Linked DNA regions of Homo sapiens: region 2 is linked to region 1. The links come from fine-mapping of genetic effects on gene expression. A gene starts in region 1. The other region holds a variant in brackets. All regions are shown on one strand. Distances are between the middles of the regions. Region 1 holds the start of POT1-AS1 (POT1 antisense RNA 1). Region 2 overlaps LOC101928283 (a long non-coding RNA gene).

Evidence for each region.
Region 2: its variant is fine-mapped to the expression of POT1-AS1 in blood mononuclear cells (TOPMed, PIP above 0.99).

Annotation. Positions count from the first base shown.
Region 1 is chr7:124,928,046-124,930,974 of GRCh38, forward strand. POT1-AS1 (POT1 antisense RNA 1) reads left to right here and starts at 1,828. Exons shown (of 8, transcript NR_125719.1): 1 at 1,828-1,971. POT1 (protection of telomeres 1) reads right to left here and starts at 1,780. Exons shown (of 19, transcript NM_015450.3): 1 at 1,749-1,780; 2 at 770-954. RefSeq lists enhancers at 1,716-2,015, 1,770-2,064.
Region 2 is chr7:125,225,531-125,228,459 of GRCh38, forward strand. All of the region lies in intron 3 of LOC101928283 (a long non-coding RNA gene), which reads left to right. Among named protein-coding and RNA genes, the nearest start is that of LINC02830, 73 kb to the left of the region's middle. The variant T/A (reference allele first, on the strand shown) is at 1,539.

The DNA of each region.
Region 1 (2,929 bases):
GTGATGATTAAATAATATACGTAAAAACTACCTAACGCATGGAAAAAAATGCAATGAATGTTAACTTTAGTTATTATTATTACTATCTTTTTTCAATATCCTTCCCATCATCCCCTCTGCCACTGGCCCAGATCATCATCAACTCTCACCTAAATTACTGTAATTGCCTCTTAACTAAACATCTTTCCTCTAATCTTGCATTCGCCAATATATTCTCTACCTAGGAGCAAAGTTTTTTGAACTCAAAGTAAATCATGTCTTTCTCCTGCTAAAACCTACTAAAGACTTCCCATAGCTTTTAGAGTAATATCCAAATTCCTCAACATGCACATAAGGACTGCTTTTTACCTCAAAGGAAGGTACAGCACAGTCTGTTATCCCGTAAGTTCCAGCTCAACTTTCGTGATCTGTCAGAACCAAAAGCTCTCTCATGTTCACACATCACAATGCTAATATCACACCTATTAATTTTAATTGGAGATCAGGTGATTGATCTGTCAGACCCCACAGAAATGTGATTATCTTTAGTTCCGGGACTATATTTATTCATCTTTGTACCTCAGAAACTTACTCCAATGTTTCACACACGAATTTGATAATTGTTCGCTAAATAAGTACTGAATAAGAATAACTTATTGAAATATTCAATCTCAAATGTTATGACAAAGATAAAAACCATACCTAAACCAGTTCTCATAAATAAACTCAACACTTAAAAACTGCATTCCTTTTAGTAGGAAAAAGCATTCTGAGTTATAGAAATTCTTACCTGAATATATTTCTTGCTATAATTGTAACCTGGCTGTAGGGATCCGAAATCTACTTTATGTAATTTACTCAGCGGCTGAACTTCAGGCACCCCATTGACTTCCTTTATTAATTCAAGTGGCATATCAGTTCTGCTTCACACTGATGTCCAAAGCAAATTCAACTAGGGAATCTGACAACTTGCTGCTGAAAATACAAAACCAGTGTTTTACCCAAAATGAAGTCAATAATTTGCTTTAAGTCTCTTTGACTTAGTTATGCTTTTCCTTATTATAGTTAACACGGTTCGGGGTTGGGGGGTGACAGGAGGATGGATTATTTTACAATTTTATTGCAAAGATCAATACAAAACATTCTTCCAAGGAACTGAAACTTAACCATTTTCTACTTAGCTGCGTAAAGTACCTCCAAAAAGCCAGTTTTAAGATCTGTAACGTCACTAACAAACGCTTTTAACATTGTGCTTTAAAATGTAAAATTTATTGGGGAAGAGGGAGGCTGAAAAATCGTGTTTTTTTTTAACCCCCACGGGAGCTGTAATATTGTATAGACAAACTGTGCACCAAAAGCATCGTACTCCAACATGTTTCTGTGGCCCCCTCCCTTCACCCGCTAAATAAATGAAGAAACAAAAATTACTGAACTGAGATTAACTTCTGCATCGTAGGCTCAACCTTATTTCACAGACCTCTTGACGGGGACACTCACTAGTGTCGATATCTAATTTTAATGTTTGCGCACCAACCTTCCCCCAAGCCACCTGAGCTCTGTGAGGGCGGGGACTTGGACTTAACTCCTGTCTGCTTCTCCCAAAACACCAAGAAAGATGCTGAACACAGCAGGCTCGAGATAAACACTCGTAAGAAAGCGTTTCTCTGCGATAATTACATCAAATTTTGATCTAAACTAATTCAATCCCGGGCCCGTTACGTCTGGCACCCACTCAAATGAACACACCAAACCTTACAAATTTCACTCACCCGTACTCTAGAAAGAACCCTAGGAAGAGTTTAGGCGGGCGCGCAGGTGACGTCACACGCACGCTGACGGTTCAGCTCCACGCATGCGTGCAGGATCCCTGGGCATAGTCGCTTGTTCTCCGCCCGCGGTGGACCAGCTGCGTAACGGTTCACACACTGATGGCGCCTGGAGGTTTGGCGAAATACTGACAGGATGCGACGTCAACGGGAGCGCAGGGCCAAGGTACAGGCCCCGCCCAGTCCGGTCACATCCCCCGGAATTCTCGCAGCTCCCCTTAGCTCCGCCCCCAGTGACTTTCCAGCTTTCGTGGCGGGAGGCAAGCTTAGGGGAAGCGGGCGGGTCCGCTGGGCGGGATTTGAGCTTCCCTTTGGTAGATTCGAAGCTCCTGTAGGCAGAGCCTTTCTTTTAATGTCCAGTTCTCTTCCTCCAAGAAATAGGCACCTACTGCAGTCTTTACAAGGAAGCATTTACAAGGATAACAATGTTATTTGGGAGTTTTTATAGTAATTTCGGGCATTGGCATAATGCCACCATTGAGTCTTGCTATTTACAGACAGATTTGATTAACCTTGTCATTGTTTTATAGGGCCATGATTTTGTGGTATAATTAATATTTATTATAATTTATTTTATAGGTTTATTATAGTTTATTTAATATTTATTATAACTTATAATTGATAAATATTATAATTTATCATTTATAATGATAAATTGTTAAACATGAATTCTCTGCTAATTCCAGATATATGCCTTCAATCATTTAAGTGAAATCATCCTAGTGTGAAACTAAATGTAATAAAGAATTACATGAATATTTCCAAGGCTAATTTGAACTAAAATATCTTCTTTATATACATATTTGCAGGAGGATATAGCTAACTTTTTTTTTTTTTTTGAGACGGAATCTCGCTCTGTCACCAGGCTGGAGTGCAATGGCGCAATCTCGGCTAACTGCAACCCCCACCTCCCGGGTTCAAGCAATTCTTCTGCCTCAGCCTCCCTAGTAGCTGGGATTACAGGCGCAGGCCACCATGCCTGGCTAATTTTTGTATTTGTTTAGTAGAGACGGGGTTTCCCATTTTGGCCAGGCTGGTCTCGAACTCCTGACCTTGTGATCCGCCCACCTTGGCCTCCCAAAGTGCTGGGATTACAGACATGAGCCACTGTGCCCAGCCAGCTA
Region 2 (2,929 bases), 300 kb after region 1:
AAAACCAGCAACTTTTTATATAATTACTTTGCAGATTTTCTGTGGTTCAAGGCAGTGACAGCCATATCCTGCTTGCATGAGGCAAGTATAGACTGCAGCCTTGAATCCGTTTTCATTCAGGTCCATCATCTTGAAGTACCAAAGTATAGTAATGGTTATGACAGTTAAGATTGTTTGGCACCAGGTGACCTTATTATTCTTGCAAATATGAAGCTTAAAATTGTACCATATATAGAAAGTTCAGGTAAATTTGCAATGGTATGATGTAGTACTTGTTAGTCTTAAATTACCATTGGTGTAAGATAATATTATGGTAATGGTTATAACTAAATAATAAAGATACTTTTCATATGAGTTTTTATAAGACTTGTGCTGCCACAAGAATTGCTGAAAGTGACCTCACATGCTCACCTTGTGTTGCCTGTATATTAGCAAATTGAAGGTAGGGATTCCCTTACCAAATCATCTTCCCATAGGCCTGAGGCTTCCTCCCCCAACAGAAGGATTTCTTGAGATCCAAGATCTCTAGGTTTTGAAATGCTAGTATTTCCAGAACACCTTTGGAAATAGATGGACCCTAAATCCATCCATTCGTTTATTCCTTCAGTGATGATACTGTTTCCCTATACTTGTTATATGAAAAAGGAAACTCATATTAGAGGGGACTCAATGATTTAACAGGCTCAGAGATTGAGCACATTTCTCTGTGGAATGAATGATAAGAGGATAAGGGGTTCCTAAAACTTTGCTTGCTGACCTTGGGCATACACAGATTTTCTCAATAAAGTGTATTCCTTAACTCATGTTATACATTCTGAAATTTATCCAGACTTCTGCTGCACTACAGGTAAAGACGAAGAAACGATATAATTTGTATGGCAATACTCTTTGTGATTGTTCAAACTTAAATTATAGTTTCTGTGTTGAAAAATGGCTATACATTGACTTTTAAAAATAAATTTTATTGTGCATATTTAAGGTATAAACACGTTGTGGTATAAATAAAGATAGTAAAGAAATTACTATAATGAAGCAAATTAGCACATCTATCATCTCAAATATTTACCCACAGTTTTGCTTTTGTGGCAAGAACCACTTAAATCTACTCATTTAACATCAATCTCTTACATGGTACAATTTTATTACCTATGGCCCTCATGCTATACATTAGCTCTCTAGACTTATTTTGTTTTCCTTGTATATTTAATTTTTTTTGGATTCTACATCTAAGTGAGACCATGCACCATTTTTCTTACTGCATCTTGCTTATTTCACTTAGCATAATATTCTCCAGACTTATCCAGTTGTGGCAAATGGCAAGATCTCATTCTTTATTAGGTGTGAATAATATTACATTGCATATATGTACCATGGTTTCTTTATCCATTCATCCACTGATGAAAACTTAGGTTGTTTACATATCTTCACTACTGCAAATAATGTTGCAATGAACATGGAAGTGAAGGTATATTTATGAGGTAGTTATTTCATTTCTTTTGGGCATATGCCCAAAGGGAGATTGCTGGGGCATATGGTAG[T/A]TCTCTTTTTAATTCCTTTAGAAATCTCCATACTGTTTTCCATAATGGCTATGCCAATCTATATTCCTACCAATAGTGTGTAAGAGTTCCCTTTTCTTTACACTCTTGCCAACATTTGTTGTCTTTAGGATTTTTCTAATGGGTGTGAGATAGTATCTGACAGTGGTTTTGACTTGCATATTCTTGATGGTTAATAATGATGAGTACCTTTTCGTATAATGGTTGGCTATTTTATGTCTTCCTTAGAGAAATGTCTATTCATGTCTTTTGCCCATTTTTAATCAGGCTATTTGTTTCTTCACTATTTAGTTATATAAATTTTTATAAATTTTGAATATGAACCACATATGAGATATATGGTTTGCAAATATTTTTCCCAATCTGTAGGTAATTCATTCATCTTGTTGATTGTTTCCTTTGCCATACAGAAGTGTTTGGTTTGATGTAGTCTCCTATGTTTATTTTTGCTTTTGTGGTCTGAGTTTTTGGTGTAATAGCCAAAAAACTGTTGCCAAAGCCAATACCCAGGAGCTTTTCCCCTATGCTATTTTCCAGGAGTTTCATAGTTTCTTATCTTAAATATTTGGGTCTTTCATCCATTTTGAGTTGATATTTGTTTATGATTTAAGATAAAGATTTAATTTCATTCTTTTGCATGTGGACCTCCAGTTTTCCCAGCACCTTTGTTTGAAGAACTCTCCTCTCCCCGTTGTGTCCTCTTGGTGTCCCTGTCAAAAATGAGTTGACCTTATATGTTTCTATTTCTGGAGTTTGAATCTGTTTCTGGAGTTTGAATCTATTCTGTTCCACTTGTCTATGTGTCTGTTTTTATGCCAGTACAATACTCTTTTGATTCCTTTAGCTTTGGAATACACAGTAATTTTAAACCAGGGAGTCTGATGCCTCCAATTGTGTTTTTCTTTCTCAAAATTGTTTTGGCTATTCAGGCCTTTCATGGTTCCACACAAATATTAAGTGTTAAGTGTTTTTTTTTTTTTTTTTGGAAAGCCTTTTGTTCTGTCCTCCAGGTTGGAGCACAGTGGCACGATCTCAGCAGCTCACTGCAAGCTCCGCCTCCTGGGTTCACGCCATTCTCCTGCCTCAGCCTCCCGAGTAGCTGGGACTACAGGCGCCCACCACCACACCTGGCTAATTTTTAGTATTTTTAGTAGAGACAGGTTTCACCGTGTTAACCAGGATGGTCTCGATCTCCTGACCTCGTGATCTGCCTGCCTCGGCCTCCCAAAATGCTGGGATTACAGGTGTGAGCCAGTGTGCCTGGCCAAATTTTAAGGTTTTTGAAACTTTCTGTGAAGAATACCATTTGATGGGAATTACACTGAATCTGTATATGGCAATATACATGCCTTTGGTAGCATGAATACATGAAG